2 separate regions of the Homo sapiens genome follow, and region 2 is linked to region 1. A link means that fine-mapping ties the variant in region 1 to the expression of a gene that starts in the linked region. Tissue or cell type: fibroblasts. Region 1 holds a variant in brackets; the other region holds the start of a gene. All regions are shown on one strand. Distances are from middle to middle.

Region 1 (8,104 bases):
CACTGGTAGTCCCAGCTACTCAGGAAGCTGAGGTGGGAGGATCGCTTCAGCCAGGTAGGTCGAGGCTGCAGTGAGCCGTGATCGTGCCACTGCACTCCAGCCGGTCTACAACTTACTTTTTAATGGTTTTACCTAGGAAAAAAAATGCGGATACACACACACACACACACACACACACACACACACATACACAGAGACATAGATGGCATTTATCTATAACCTTTGGTGTCCAATAGAATAGTCACTGTAGCCACATAGAACTGTTTACACTTAAATTACAATTATATAACATTTAAAAATCATATCCTTATTTGCACTAGCCATATTTCAAGTGTCAATAGCCACATGTGTCTCATGGCAATGTATTGGGCAGCACAGATGTGGAACATTTTCGTCATCATGGAAGTTCTCTTGGGTAGTGATGCTATAGACACATAGAACAGAAAGCAAATGTGGCAAAATGATAACAATTGGTGAAGAGTATACAGTATTTATTGTTCTATTTCAATTTTTCTATAGATTGGAAACTTAAAAATAGGAGGTTTTTTTTTTTTTTTTTTTTTTTTTTGTGAGAGTCTCTCTCCATCACCCAGGCTGGAGTGTGGTCTCAGCTCACTGTAGCCTCCGCCTCCTGGGTTCAAACAGTTCTCATGCCTCAGCCTCCTGAGTAGCTGGGACTACTGTTGTGCCCCACCACGCCCAGCTAGTTTTTGTATTTTTGGTAGAGACAGGGTTTAGCCATGTTGCCCAGGCTGGTCTCAAACTCCTGGCCTCAAGTGATCTGCCTGCCTCGGCCTCCCAAAGAGCTGGGATTACAGGCGTGAGCCACCATGCCCTGCTTCAAAATAAGAGTACTAAATGCCAGTATGATCCTAGATTGGGGCCTGGACCAGAACAAATTTTTTTTTCTTTCTTTTTTTTTTTGCGATGATGGGCATCGATAGGACAATTGGCAAAATACGAATAAAGTCTGTAAATTAAATATTAGTATTATAAAAAGTTAAATGTCCTGATTTTGATAATTGTGCTATTGGTTATGTTAAAAAATGTGTTTGTTGGGAAATACACCCAGAAATATTTAGGAGTAAAGGGGCACAATGTCTAGAGCTTACTCTCAGAGTTTCAGGAAAAAGTGTGTATGTGTATGAGCGCAGATACTTCTCAACTTACAGTGGGGTTACGTCCTGAAAAACCCATCATAAGTTGAACATATCGCAAGTTGAAAATGCATCTGATACTCCTAATCTGCCGAGCATCATAGCTTAGCCTAGCCTACCTTAAATGTGCTCAGGACACTTCGATATCCCGCAGCTAGGCAAGATCATCTGGTGAAGGGGTACACGGCAGAGTATCAATTGTTTGCCCCTGTGATCACGTGGCTGACTGGTGTTGCGGCTCACTGCCGCTGCCCAGTAGTACCGCATATGACTATTCTGCGAAAAGACCAAAATTCAAAATTTAAAATACAGTTTTTACTGAATGCATATCGCTTTCGCACCCCTGTAAAGTCAAACGTCCTAAGTAATGCACCATTTGTAGTCCCTATTTTTTAAAGGCATGTAGATTCATGCTCTTACCACCAGGTGGCCTCAGTTAACCTTGGTCCGTGTGTAAATCACTGCACCTCATTTTTCTACCCTGGGCCATGCCTCAGTACCACAAACCTTTGTCCCTAGTACTGTTCCCTTGTCGCTTCTGAATCTTAGCCACAGCTGATTTTTTATCTGTTGTCTTCCTCCCTTCTGTTCCTTTGGGGCCAGAGGAAGATAGTTACTGCTATAAAAAATCTGAAGGTGAATTTGGCCTTTGCCAAGTTGTAGACACCATTGTAGGACTGTCACCTTTCAGAAGAGTCTGGGAGGGAGGGATTTGCTTATACTCAAACAGGGAAGCTCAGGCTAGGATAGACTTGCCATTACAGGCAAGGGAGCATCAGTTGTATCTCTGATTTGGGGCAGGATGGGAGACGTCTAGATGTGTTTTACCCTAGCGACCTGGCGTTTCCACCAGGGGTAATATACACTAGGATGTCTGTCTAGCTCCTCGGTGTGATGCTTGTGTAGCTTTGTACTCCATGAGTCTTTGGCTTGCTGGTCCCAAACGAACATCAGAATTGTTGCCACATGAAGGCTATGAGCGGAAGAAGAAATGTAGATGACTAACGACACATGGCAAAAATATTCAACCTTGCTGGTAATCGAAGAACAGCAATAGAACAAATAAGTAAAGTTCAATAATAATATGCAGCATGATGTGGAATCAGACCGGCCGGGTGCACAGTCTGGCTTGTAGCTCCCTGGCTATGTAGAGTGGGAGAGTGACCTTGCCTCTCAAGCCTGTTTTCTCCTGGGTAAAATGGGGTGATGATATATTCCCTGCCTCATGGGTTTGTTGTGAGGATTCAGTTAGAAAATGTATGCACATGGCAGAGGGTCTTTAATAAGTACTCATAAAATCTTAAATATTATCTTTATTTATTTCAGTTAAAATTTATAAATTGGCCAGGTGCGGTGGCTCACGCCTGTAATCCCAGCACTTTGGGAGGCCAAGGTAGGCAGATCATCTGAGGTCAGGAGTTTGAGACCAGCCTGGCCAACATGGTGAAACCCTGTCTCTACTAAAAATACAAAAATTAGCCAGGCACGGTGGCGGGCGCCTGTAATCCCAGCTACTCAGGAGGCTAAGGCAGGAGAATTGCTTAACCTGGGAGGCAGAGGTTGCAGTGAGCCGAGATTGTGGCATTACACTCCAGCCTGGGCAACAAGAGCCAAACTCTATCTCAGAAAAAAAAAAAAAATTATAAATTTTGTTATGTTCCCAGGCTGGTCTTGAACTCCTGGGCTGAAGCAGCCCTCCCACCTTGGCCTCCCAAAGTGCTGGGATTCCAGGCATGAGCCGCCACGCCCGGCCTTAGCTGTTGTCTTTACACCATGCGTTTTTAACCCATGGATTTGCAAAAAGTGAACAAGCATATCCCTTAGCACTCTGTGATGTCTGGTAAAATGAATATTCTCCTGTAGCACTGATGGGAGGCTACATGGGTTTACCTTTCTTGGAAAGGAATGGGCAGTTTTAAGAACTTTAAAAAGTGTTCGTATCCTTTGGAGGAATACTCAAGAAAGGCATGCAGATGTATATGTTCACGGTAATTTCCCCAGAGCGAACAATTGCAAGCAGTCTATTCGACAATGAAAGAATAGTTAACATATACCTATTATGGGCTTGTATTGCAGTCATTTAAGAGTGACTTATGGGGGTGAAGAATTTTTAAAGAATTGAATAAATAAAAGATGAAAATCTGGAAGGCAATTTACCAACGATAAATTGGTGATGATGATCACTGGCAGTTATCCCAGTGGTTTCAGGTTAGGGATTTTTTTTTTTTTTTTACACTTCATATTTTTTTTGGTGTGTGTACTCACATTTCTTTAAAAAGTTTTTAGAATCAAGACAAAACAAAATGTATTGATTTATTTTTTAAAGCAATAACTAAAAAGAGCCGGAACATCTGCCACAGGGGGGCATCTGGGAGCCCTGGGACTCATCTTTGACTTTTTCTTTCTTTCTCTCCCAGTGGTGTCCGCAAAGCCCAAGGTGCATAATCGTCAACCTCGAATTAACTCCTACGTGGAGGTGGCGGTGGATGGACTCCCCAGTGAGACCAAGAAGACTGGGAAGCGCATTGGGAGCTCTGAGCTTCTCTGGAATGAGATCATCATTTTGTAAGAGAAAGCCCCTTCTTTTTGAACGCAGCAAGATGGGGAAAGAGAGAGGGTGCTCCGAGGGGGTTGTGGGAGGTACAGATTCCCTGTGGCACCTCCGACTTTTTCTACCTATGGTACCCAAGGTGACTCTTTTTAGGTGTTCCTACACCATTGAGCTCATAGAGCGTTCATTATTATCTAGAGGGTTACAGGGTCAGCTTTGAGAGGGGAAAGGATATATGTGGGTGTCTGCCT[G/A]TTTTGGTTCCCCCTCCCCAAGATGTCAGCAGTTTAGTTTAAATGTTTTCTTCTAAGTTATAGGAATGATCTGCTTGGATGTAATGAATCAGGTATTTGTTTTTCAGGAATGTCACGGCACAGAGTCATTTAGATTTAAAGGTCTGGAGCTGCCATACCTTGAGAAATGAACTGCTAGGCACCGCATCTGTCAACCTCTCCAACGTCTTGAAGAACAATGGGGGCAAAAGTACGTATGATGAAGGGGGTGCCGACGTGATTCTTGGGTGGGGATGGGAGGACCTGGCAGATCAACCTGGTATTGCAATTTCCCCCAGGACTAGGGGCTGCAGTACCTCTGTTCTCCTTGGATGCTGTCTTTGGAGTTTTGGGAAGGCTGAGGGCTCCTCTCTGCCTCCACTACAGAGTTTAGCCCTCTTTGTCCAGGGCCTCTAGTAATGTGATGCAGTGGTGTGTTGCCCTTTATCCTTCCTTAGGGACTGGAAACTTTCTGTCTGCCTCTGCTCCTCTTCCCGTTGCAGGAGATGTGTGATATGTTGAATGAAACTGTCAAATACCTCTAGCCTAAATCATTGCTTTTCTAGCCTCAGCCCTAAAACAGAACAAAGGAGCTGTGTGTATACGTATATGTGTGTGTGTGCATGCCTGTGTGCATGTGTGCACGTGTGTGTCTGGGATAGTATTACAAATAGTGCCCTGTGCTTACTCGGCACTCAGTAAACATTTACTGGATGTTGGAACGTGATGGACGCGCCATCTGAATTAGCCAACGTGCCTCTACGTCACGGACATATAAATCCTCATCTATTTATTGCTGTTTGTGGTCAGTGGCATGGCCCATGGCGGTGGTATTGGACCCTCCTTCATAAGGCCTCTATTCAGAGCAGTACCATATGTGGCGAATGAATGGCATGGAAAGAAAGGCTCCTTTTTCTCTTGATATCTGGAAAGTATTTTCTGAAAGTGGATGTAGCTTAAGAGAGAGGTGGGGGCGGGGAGAGTTGCGTCCCAGCGAGCGTGTTACATGATTTAAGAGTCTTTCTTTTCTCTCCAAGCCTGTCCTTTTAAGCGATGGGCCACTTGAAAGGTCTTTGAGCCTCCTCTGGTCTTTTCTTTTCGGCTGGGCACATAGAGATGTGCTGAACCCACACTGGCCCGAGGAATTGTTTAAAACCAGAGATGTGCCTCCACTTTAATCCTGCAGAGAACTCCCTGATTGCTTTGTCTTCTGAATTGGTGTTTATTTTCCCAAACCCTAGCCAGCCTTTTGTAATTTGATCATCAGGGAGAATTCTATTTATTGCAATATTTGGAAATATACTTGTGGATAGCCTCACATTAGGATGCAGCAACCAGCATGAGGGTCCTTTTTTCCTCTTCATTTGCCCAGCCAATATACTTTTGCTTTTGGTTAGCAAAAGTCCTTGTAGAAATTGTAAATTACAGAAAGAAAACAAAATTTGCCCCTAAGCACAGCACCTAGTAATAGTTATTGTTTTTTCTTTTTTTTTTTTTTGAGATGGAGTCTTACTCTGTTGCCCAGGCTGGAGTGTAGTGGTGCAATCTCGGCTCACTGCAACCTCCGCCTCCCAGGTTCAAGCGATCCTACCACCTCAGCCTCCCAAGTAGCTGGGATTACAGGCATGTGCCACCATTCCCAGCTAATTTTTGTATTTTTAGTAGACATGAGGTTTCACTGTGTTGGTCAGGCTGGTCTTGAACTCCTGACCTCAGGTGATCTGCCCGCCTCATCCTCCCAAAGTGTTGGGATTACAGGCGTGAGCCACTGCACCCAGCCTGATAGTTATTCTTAATGTTTTTTTAAAAGCAATTTTATGGCCGGGGGTGGTAGCTCACGCCTGTAATCCCAGTACTTTGGGAGGCTGAGGCGGGTGGATCACCTGAGGTCAGGAGTTCGTGACCAGCCTGGCCAATATGGCGAAACCCTGTTTCTACTAAGAAAAATACAACAATTACCCAGGGATGGTGGTGGGCGCCTGTAATCCCGGCTACTCAGGACGCTGAGACAGAAGAATCGCTTGAACCCGGGAGGTGGAGGTTCCAGTGAGCCGAGATTGCGCCACTGCACTCCAGCCTGGGTGACAGAGCAAGTCTTAAAAAAAAAAAAAAAGCAATTTTACTTTAATTAATTAATTTTTATTTTTATATATATATATTTTTTGAGACAGGTTTCTCACTTTGTCACTCAGGCTGGAGTGCAGTGGTGCAATCTCGGCTCACCGTAGCCTCTGCTCCTGGGCTCAAGTGATCCTCCCACCTCAGCCCCCACCCCTAGTAGCTGGGACTACAGGCACACGCCACCATGGCCTGGCTGTATTTCATATTTTTAGTAGAGAGTAGGTCTCACTATGTTGCCAGGATGGTCTGGAACTCCTGAGCTCAAGTGATCCGCCTGCCTTGGCCTTCCAAAGTGCTGGGATTACAGATGCGAGCCACTGCGTCTGGCCAATTAATTAATTTTTAGATTGAGATGGGATCTCCCTATATTGCTCAGGCTGGAGTGTAGTGGCTATTTATAGGCACGATCACAGCTCACTGTAGCCTCAAACTCCCAGCCTCAAGCCATCTCCTGCCTCAGCCTCCGGAATAGCTGGAACCACAGGCGTGCACCACTATACCTGACTACTGTTAACATTTTGATGTATACATTTTTGAGCTTTTAAATTTTATCTTTTAAATAATTTTTTCCCCTCAGATCCTTGTTCTGATCTTTTTTTATATTTGTAGACGTATATTGATGTTTATGACATCAATGAAACTAAATTGAGATTATACATGAACATATTATTTTGCAATATGCCTTTTTCTCTTTAAAAATGTATCAATATATATTTATTTTTATTTATTTATTTTTTTTTCTGAGACGGAGTCTTGCCCTGTTGCCCAGGCTGGAGTGCAGTGGCGCGATCTTGGCTCACCACAACCTTTGCCTTCTGGGTTCAAGCGATTCTCCTGCCTCAGCCTCCCGAGTAGCTGGGACTACAGGCACCCACCACCATGCCCGGCTAATTTTTGTATTTTTAACAGAGACAGGGTTTCACTATGTTGGCCAGGCTGGTCTCGATCTCCTGACCTCGTGATCTGCCCGCCTCGGCCTCCCAAAGTGCTGGATTACAGGCATGAGCCACCGTGCCTGGCCTATATTTATTTTTAGTTGTGATAAAATACACATGATGTAAAATTAATCACGTTAATAATTTTTAGGTGTATAGGTTAGTGGTGTTAAGTACATTCACCTTGTACAACCATCACCACCATCTATCCCCAGAACTCTTTTCACCTTGCAAAACTGAAATTCTGTCCCATTAAACCATGACTCCCCCATCCTCCCCTCGCACCAGCACCTGGCAGCTACCGCTCTACTTTCTGCTTCTGTGAATTTGGCTTTTCCAGGTAGCTTATGTTAGTGGAACCATACAGTATTTGTCCTTTTATGACTGGCTTATTTCAGTCAGCATAATGTCCTCAAGGCTTATTCATGTTGTAACATGCGTCAGAAGATTTTTCTTTCCTTTTGTTTTTTTTTTTTTTGAGACAGGGTCTCGCACTGTCGCTCAGGCTGGAGTGCAGTGGCGCGATCTCGGCTCACTGCAACCCCTGTCTCCTGGGTTCAAGTGATTCTCCTGCCTCAAGCTTCCAAGTAGCTAGGATTATGACAGGTACCTGCCACCATGCCCAGCTAATTTTTTTATTTTTAGTAGAGACGGGAGTTTCACCATGTTGGCCAGGCTGGTCTCGAACTCCTGACCTCAAGTGATCTGCCCACCTTGGCCTTCCAAAGTGCTGGGATTACAGGCATAAACCACCGCATCTGGCCCAAGATATCTTATTATGTATGTGCAAATATACCAAAATCTGAAAAAATCTGAAATCCAAAACACTTCCAGTCCCAAGCATTTCAAATAAATACTTATGAGACCTGTACAATTTACCTTCCCATCAGCAGTGGCTGAAATTTCTGGTTTGTATTGTACCTTGGCATATATTGGATATTACTTGTAAAAAAAAAAAGCCTTTTTTTTTCCTATTTGATAACTATTAACATTATGATGGATTTGCTTTTCCTGTTTCTTTTTGGCTGAATTATTTTTATTTTCTTATTTTTTACTTTTTTGCTCTGATCT
Region 2 (8,104 bases), 72 kb before region 1:
AGTTTTTATTTTATTGACTTCTCATCAATGTTAACAAGCATTTTCTAAGTAGTAAGACAGTCAAGGCACTTCTCAGAAAATGAGCAAATCAGGATATCCATCTCTTGCTCTTTCAAGGAGCTCAGACTCTAATAGCTATAAGCAGGCCTGTGACTTTACAATTTTTCATGTAAGGCAACACACAAGCAGGAATAATATATTTGCAACAAATATAACCATCAAAGTGCAGTACCTGGAATAGGTAGATCCCCAAAACAACTCAAAAGAAAAATGATCAAAAGAAGGTTGTGGGTGGGTCGCGGTGGCTCACACCTGTAATCTCAGCACTTTGGGAGGCTGAGGCGGGCAGATCACCTCATGTCAGGAGTTAGAGACCAGCCTGGTTAACATGGTGAAACCCCGTCTCTACTAAAAATACAAAAAAAAATTAACCAGGTGTAGTGGCAGGTGCCTGTAATCCCAGCTAATCGGGAGGCTGAGGCAGGAGAATTGCTTGAATCCAGGAGGCGGAGGTTGCAATGAGCCGAGATCGCACCATTGCACTCCAGCCTGCGCAACAGAGCAAGCCTCTGTCTCAAACAAACAAACAAAAAGATGCTTGTGAATAGGCAATTTAAAAGTTTTCTGGGCCCTGGAGGGTTCATTTTCCCTTCCTGCCACTTAACTAGCTGAGCAACATGACCTGGGAGGAGTTAGACTATTAGAGTTTACCCTGAGAGAGGCCACAAGATGCACACACGGATAACCTCTTCAGGGTACAATGGCATTAGTGTGTTAGGAGAGGTAAGGGACAAAGTTCAACAGAAGGCTGGGTGTGGTGGCTCATGCCTGTAATCGTAGCACTTTGGGAGACCGAGGCGGGTGGATTACTTGAGGTCAGGAGCTAGAGACCAGCCTGGCCAACATGGTGAAACCCCGTCTCTACTAAAAATACACAATTAGCTGGGCGTGGTGGTGGGCGCCTGTAATCCCAGCTACTTGGGAGGCTGCAGCACAAGAATCGTTTGAACCTGGGAAGTGGAGATTGCAATGAGCCAAGATCACGCCACTGCACTACAGCCTGGGCAACAGAGTGAGTGAGACTCCATCTCAAAAAGTTCAACAGAGGAAAACTTCAGGACCTCAGGGCTGGCCCATTCGGAAAGGCCCTCAGAGGAGCTTGCCATTTGAGCTGAATCTTGGTCTTGAACTCCTGGCCTCAAGCAGTCCTCCCGCCTCAGCCTCCCAAAAGTGCTGGGATTACAGGAATGAGCCACCACTCCCAGCCAAAATTTTTTTTTTTTTTAATTAGCTGGGTTTCAAGTTCTTCTGCTCTGACCAAAAAAAATTAGCTGGGTGTGGTGGCACACACCTGTAGTCCCAGCTACTCGGGGGCAAAGATGGGACAATCACTTGAGCCCAGGAGGTCAAGGCTGAAGTGAGCCCTGATCATGCCACTGCACTCCAGCCTGGGCAACAAAGCAAGACCCTGTCTCAAAAAGAAAAAAAGAAGTATGATAAAGATAAGCCTTTGTATCAGTTTCATGCATTCTCCTTCTGCCTTCTCTTCTCACTTGAGTGCTCCAGGGAACATGAGTGCAAATCAGATGCATCTATTAGTTGCAAACAAAAAACCTGGATGCTTTAGTTAACCTCAAGATTTGGTTAGCTGGGTACAGCTAAAACTAATTATACAAGATCCAAGTCTTCCCTTTTCACCTCATTACCACCGCCCTTTTTTGTGTTTAAGCTACACGTAAATACAGAACATTCTGTAAGATTGAAAAGTCAGGAAATAGTTCCTGCCCTAGTATTGGAGGAGAGGGTGCCAGTGCCTCGACGCTGAAGAATGAAATACAAGGGAAACAGCAACCACCGTGTATGCGGCAAGCCTCTCAGCTGTCAGAATCTATTCCCTGCTGTCTCTGCCAGTAACTCATGCTGGGCTACCAATCCCCAGCTTAGTCCCTTTCTCAGAGATCCTGATAATTTCAGTTTGTCAACTGCAAGGGCAGTCTGTTCCTCCACTCACTTTGACCAAGATGGGCTTCTTTGTGTACAGGCGCATTTTTAGAGGCAGGACCAGGTCCACAGGGAAGGAAATTACAAAACACAGGATTCTGCCCCAGATGAGGCAACAGCTTTCTAAATCTTAGTACTGTCCAATCTCAGAGTGAGATTATTTGGGAAACAGCTCTCAATCCCTGCAGTTGTCTCAGCTGGTTATTTATGCCTTGGGTGGAGCTGGGGTGACCTCTGAGTTCCCCTAGGGTCGATGGCCGAGTGGGAAGGCTCTATCACTGAAGTGGACCCAATACTAGAAACGGATCCAGTACGATCTGATCAGGTTTGCCTAATCCAAGGGCCTCAATGGAAAATGCCTCCCAAGGCCAGGCACGGTGGCTCACGTCAGTAATCTCAGCACTTGGGGAGGCTGAGGTGGGTGGATCACCTGAGGTCAGGAGTTCAAGACCGCGCTGGCCAACTTGGCGAAACCCGTCTGTACTAAAAATATAAAAATTAGCCGCGCATGATGGCGCACTCCTGTAATCCCAGCTACTCGGGAGGCTGAGATGGGAGAATCGCTTGAACCCGGGAGGCGGAAGTTTCGCTGAGCTGAGATAGCGCCATTGCACTACAGCCTGGGCGACAAGAGCAAAACTCCGTCTCAAACAAAACAAAACAAAACAAAACAAAACAAAACCTGTGCCTGGCAGCCTGGAGCCGGTTCTGGTCTCCGTCAAACCAAAGGCATCAGTTTCCTCCACTCCTGTCCACCAATCGCCAGATATTCTCATTTTCTTCAGAAGCTCGGAATCCACATTTTTAAGTGAAATCACCCATTTTAATGTTAGCAACTTATTTCAAAGTGTTTTAGATACTATAGACCAAAAGAGGTATGGGCTGTGACCGTAAGCCTGATTTGGCCTCTGACGGCCAGTTTCTGACCACAGTTTTGGAGGGAATTTCTGCTTCCAAGGTCAAGTTTCTCCTAAATGCCCACTAGAGTTCGTGGGGTGGAGTGAGGAAGGATCCGCGACACCGGATACAAACAGAAGCTCTCCTTCTCCCGGAGTCCGATCAAGGCTCATCCCAGGTCCCTAATCTCTTCCCTTTGTGGGTTTTGAGTCAAGGAACAAAATTCAGGGCCAAGCCCCTACAACCTCCTCCACAGGCACCAGTGCTCGAGAGACGACCGCCAAGCACCCCGCCCTTTGCAGCACTCACCGACCATGGCTCTGGTGCAGTCCGGGGCGCTGATTGGCTGGGCTCGTGGTTGCCGGGGCGACCCTGGCCGGAACTAGGCTCTCGGTGAGCTGGGCGGCTCCGGCTGCAACCTTGTGGGAGTCGCGTGTGTAGTGCACGGTGCATTCTCTCTTATATATCCTGTCCGGCCCGTTTGAGGTGGACAGCCTACAAGGGCGGGACCCAACGCCTGAATCCTGGGGTGCTGGGCGGAGGATGCTGAGGCTGCAGCTCCAGGAAGGGAGGGAGCCTGGGGGATGAAGGAGGGGCCTCTCCACTCTCACCCGCCGGAGCAACTGGTGGAAGTCAAGAAAAGTCTCTCGGGGCTGGGGGAGGGGATTGTAGGGGTGTGTGTGACAGAGGCCTCAAAAATCTGGCTGGGGGTGCTAAGGCAAGCCCATCTGCGCACTGTGCCCTGAGGTGCAAGAGGATGCAGGGTGGAAGTCGTCCCAAGAGAGTCCAGGGATCAAGTGGGCATGCCCTTTTAGCCTTGGCACGAAATGGAGCAGAAAAAGAGCCGGATGCGGATTACTGTGGTGCCCTAGGCTCAGATTCTGCTGAGTCACTGTGACTGCGGATTTGGAAGGCTGAGAGTCCTGGGGAGACATGCTCCGTGGAGACGAATTTGTTTCTTCCTTTGCAAGATTCAGATTCTGCACTTGGGGGCCCATACAACACACTTCCCTGGGTGCATGCCACTGCACCACCCCTGCTCCTCAAGGCAGGTAATGGGGGAACTAATTGGTTTTGTTTCCCATGAGCTAAGGCAAGGCTGGTGTGGAGATAGCAGTTATAGGGAAGCATATTAAAGAATAGCCAAAACGGGACCAGGCGCGGTGGCTCACGCCTGTAATCCCAGCAATATGGGAGGCCGAGGTGGGTGGATCACCTGAGGTCAGGAGTTCGAGACCAGCCTGGCCAACCTGGTGAAGCCCCGTCTGTACTGAAAAATTAGCTGGGCGTGATGGCGGGCGCCTGTAAGTCCCAGCTACTCGGGAGGCTGAGGCAGGAGAATCGCTTGAACCCGGAAGGCGGAGGTTGCAGTGGGTCGAGATCGTGCCACTGCACTCCCGCCTGGGTGACGAAGTGAGACTCCGTCTCAAAAAAAACTCTATAAAGTAAAAGTTACTGTAAAGAAGGAGATATACTCTCAGTAGGTGAAGGAAAAAGAACTAGAGCTTTAAAGTGGTAATTAACCATCAGAAGAATCACAGATGGGGGAGGTGAGGATGACACAGGGCCCTTCCGTTGTCCCTCCAGTGCAAAAGTTAAGGAGGCACCAGAAAACTGGTTTCCAACTCCCGACCTCAGGTGATCCTACCGCCTCGGCCTCCCGAAGTGCTGGGATTACAGGCATGAGCCACCGCGCCCGGCCCCATCGTGACATTTTTGCATTCATTTTGATGCAACAAGAGAGGACTATATTATTTACACGTATTTACAAATTACTTTGGGAGGCTGAGGCAGGAGGATCACTTGAGCCCAAGAGTTTGAGAAAAGCCTGAGCAACAAAGTGAGACCCCATCTGACAAAATAGTATAAAAGGACGTTTTAAAAAAGGGCTAGGTAGGCAGCCCTGTCCAATAGAACTTTCCCTATCTGTGCTGCCCAAGTAAGGTAGCCACAAGCTTCAAGTAGCTATTGAGCACTGGAAATGTGGCCAGCAGCCAGGCGTGGTGGCAGGCGCCTGTGTCCCAGCTACTCAGGATCTGAGGCAAAAAGATCGCTTGAGCCCAGGAATTCAAGGCCGCAGTGGTGGACTCAATAAAAGAAAAAAAATGGAAATTAAAAAAAAAAAAGTGGCCAGTGGACTGAGGAAGTGAAGTTTTAATTGTAATTAAATTAATTTTTTAAAAATTTATTTTTTGAGGCGGGGTTTCACTGTGTCGCCCAGGCTGGAGTGCAGTGGCAGGATCTTGGCTCACTGCAATCTCCATCTCCTGGGTTTAAGCAATTCTTGTGCCTCAGCTTCCTGAGTAGCTAGGACTACGGGCATGCACCACCACAGTCAGCCACTTTTTGTATTATTCGTAGAGATGAGTTTCACCATGTTAGCCAGGCTGGTCTCAAACTCCTGACCTCAGGTGATCTGCCCACCTCGGCCTCCCAAAGTGCTAGGATTACAGGCATGTGCCACTGCGCCTGGCTTTAATTAAATTTAGATAGCCACATGTCACTAGTGTTTGGAAAGACCTGAGCTGGTTCAGATCGAGGCCGCAGTGTGCTGGCTATTCTATCTCTCACTCTTCTAGTGAGATTGTTTTCTCAATCACCAGTCTCCCTGACCCATCCAGAGGTGGGGCTCAAAGCCACAAAGCTCAAGTGTCGTGTTCGGTCGTTGGTTTCCAGCATGGCCAGTTCCCATCCTCAGTCATCTTGTTAACATGAACTATATAGGGGCCCATCCCAAGTCATCTCATTAGCATAAACCATCAGGAGTGGTCTGAGAAGCCCACAATGAATAAGATGGACACTCCTATCATTTGGGATTTAGGGGCTCAGGGGCATGATGATAGTTCACTGCAGCCTCGACCTTCTGGAGTCAAGCAATCCTCCTGCCCCAGCCTCCTGAGTAGCTGAGATGACAGGTGCATGCCACCGTGCCTGGCTAATTTTTTTTTATTTTTTTGGTAGAGATAGGGTCTCACTATGTTGCCCAAGCTGGTCTCAAACTCCTGGGCTCATGTGATCCTCCCGCTTTGATCTCCCAAAGTGCTGGAGTTACAGGTATGTGCCACCACTCCTGGCCAAATTTGTTACTACACAGTGGTAAAGACAGACATTTGAGGTGGCAGTGAACCAAGATCATGCCACTGCACTCCAGCCTGGGCAACAGAGGGAGATCCTGTCTCAAAAGAAAAAAAGAAACTTACTGGCCGGGCACAGTGGCTCAGGCCTGTAATCCCAGCACTTTGGGAGACTGAAGCGGGTGGATCACTTGAGCTCAGGAATTGGAGACCAGCCTGGCCAATGTGGTGAAACCCCGTCTCCACTAAAAATACAAAAACATGAGCTGGGTGTGGTGGTGGGCGCCTCCAGTCCCAGCTACTCGGGAGGCTGAGGCACGAGAATCGCTTGAATTCAGGAGGCAGAGGTTGCAGTGAGCTGAGATTGTGCCACTGCACTCCAGCCTGGGCAACAAGAGCGAGACTCCATCTCAAGAAAAAAAGAAAAAGAAAAAGCTGCTGTGGAGCATGGGCGAGCACTGCTGCCTGGACAAAGACCGAGGGTCCTCGGGAGGGCAGTACTGATGTACAGGTTTCCAGCAGGTCGGCGTGTGTGTTCTCTCCTGCAGGTCTGCAGCCAGGCGTGCCAGGAGAGGGGGAGTCTGAGGGATTGATGTAGGTTGGGAAAGCATGATGAGAGGAGACAGAGTGGGGGCTGTGAAGAAGAGAGCGACTTGATGGTGGCGGTAGTTACACAGATGTATGTATTTATTAAAATCCGCTGAAAAGTACATTTTAAATACAAGCATTTTATTGTATGCATGTTATTCCTCAACAAAGTCCATTTTTAAAAAGTAGAGTGGTTGGAGTGATGACGAACATTATGAAAGGGCTTATTGGCAGAGAAAAAGTAGAGGGGTCCAGAGACTCAAGTTCCTAACGAGGCTGAAGTAAGAGTGGGGGATTAAATAAGGGCAAAAACTGAGAGAATAAAAAAAGTGGGTTGTTTGGGGCCAGGTGCGGTGGCTTATACCTGTAATCCCAGCACTTTGGGAGGCCAAGGCAGGGGGATCGCTTGAGCCCAGGAGTTCAAGACCAGCCTGGGCAACATAGTGAGACCCCCCCGCAACCCCCCCCACCTCTGCCATCTCTAAAAAAATTAAAAATTAGCTAGGTGTGGTGGTGTGCACCTGTGGATCCAGCTACTAAGGAGGCTGAGATGGGTGGATCATCTGAGCCTGGGAAGTCGACGCTATAGTGAGCTGTGACTGTACCACTGCACTCCAACCTAGGCAGCACAGTGACACCCTATCTAAAAACAAAAAGAAAAAACAAAAACCCAAGTGGGTTGATTGGGAAACACAGGAGATAGAAGTTAAAATCATGGGGAAACATCAGTCAAATCACAGTGTGGGACATTCTACAGGACAACCAACCTGGTTTATCCCATAATTCAGTGCTATAAGAAAAATGAAGGAGTGTATATTGATCAGGATTTTCCAGAGAAACAGAACCAATTGAATTTCTATAAATATATAAAAAGCAATATATTGCTGGGTGCAGGGCTCACACCTTGTGATGGTTAATAATGAGTGTCAACTTGATTGGATTGAAGGATGCAAAGTATTGATCCTGGGTGTGTCTGTGAGGGCGTTACCAAAGGAGGTGAACATTTGAGTCAGTGGGACTGGGAAGGGCGGACCCATCCTCAATCTGGGTGGGCACCAACTAATCAGCTGCCAGTGCGGCCAGAATATAAAGCAGGCAGAAAAACGTGAAAAGACTAGACTAGGCCTGGTGCCGTGGCTCACGCCTGTAATCCCAGCACTTTGGGAGGCCGAGACGGGTGGATCACTTGAAGTCAGGAGTTCAAGACCAGCCTGGCCAATATGGCAAAACTCATCTCTGCTAAAAATACAAAAAAATTTAGCTGGGTGTTGTGGTGCATGCCTATAATGCCAGCTACTCAGGAGGCTGAGGCAGGAGAATAGCTTGAACCCAGGAAGCAGAGGTTGCGGTGAGCCGAGATCACACCGCTGTACTCCAACCTGGGTGACAGAGACTCACCTCACCAAAAAAAAAAAAAAAAATAAGTGGGGCTAGACTGGCCTAGCCTCCCAGTCTACATCTTTCTTCTGTGCTGGATGTTTCCTGCCCTCCAACATCAGACTCCAAGTTCTTCAGCTTTGGGACTCGGACTGGCTTCCTTGCTC

What was found. PIP is the estimated chance that this variant, and not a neighbour inherited with it, causes the effect.
Region 2: it holds the start of NQO1, and the variant in region 1 is fine-mapped to the expression of NQO1 in fibroblasts (GTEx, PIP above 0.99). The same link has a PIP of 0.9 or more in aorta, breast, esophagus mucosa, esophagus muscle, lung and sigmoid colon.

The regions. Positions count from the first base shown.
Region 1 is chr16:69,795,108-69,803,211 of GRCh38, forward strand. WWP2 (WW domain containing E3 ubiquitin protein ligase 2) reads left to right here. Exons shown (of 24, transcript NM_001270454.2): 3 at 3,575-3,722; 4 at 4,067-4,188. Among named protein-coding and RNA genes, the nearest start is that of WWP2, 37 kb to the left of the region's middle. The variant G/A (reference allele first, on the strand shown) is at 3,960.
Region 2 is chr16:69,723,226-69,731,329 of GRCh38, forward strand. It overlaps NQO1 (NAD(P)H quinone dehydrogenase 1), which reads right to left and starts at 3,335. Exons shown (of 6, transcript NM_000903.3): 1 at 3,208-3,335. The coding sequence starts at 3,214. It overlaps NQO1-DT (NQO1 divergent transcript), which reads left to right and starts at 3,502. Exons shown (of 2, transcript NR_186363.1): 1 at 3,502-3,950. RefSeq lists enhancers at 2,818-3,810, 2,897-4,096, 3,343-3,602, 3,811-4,804.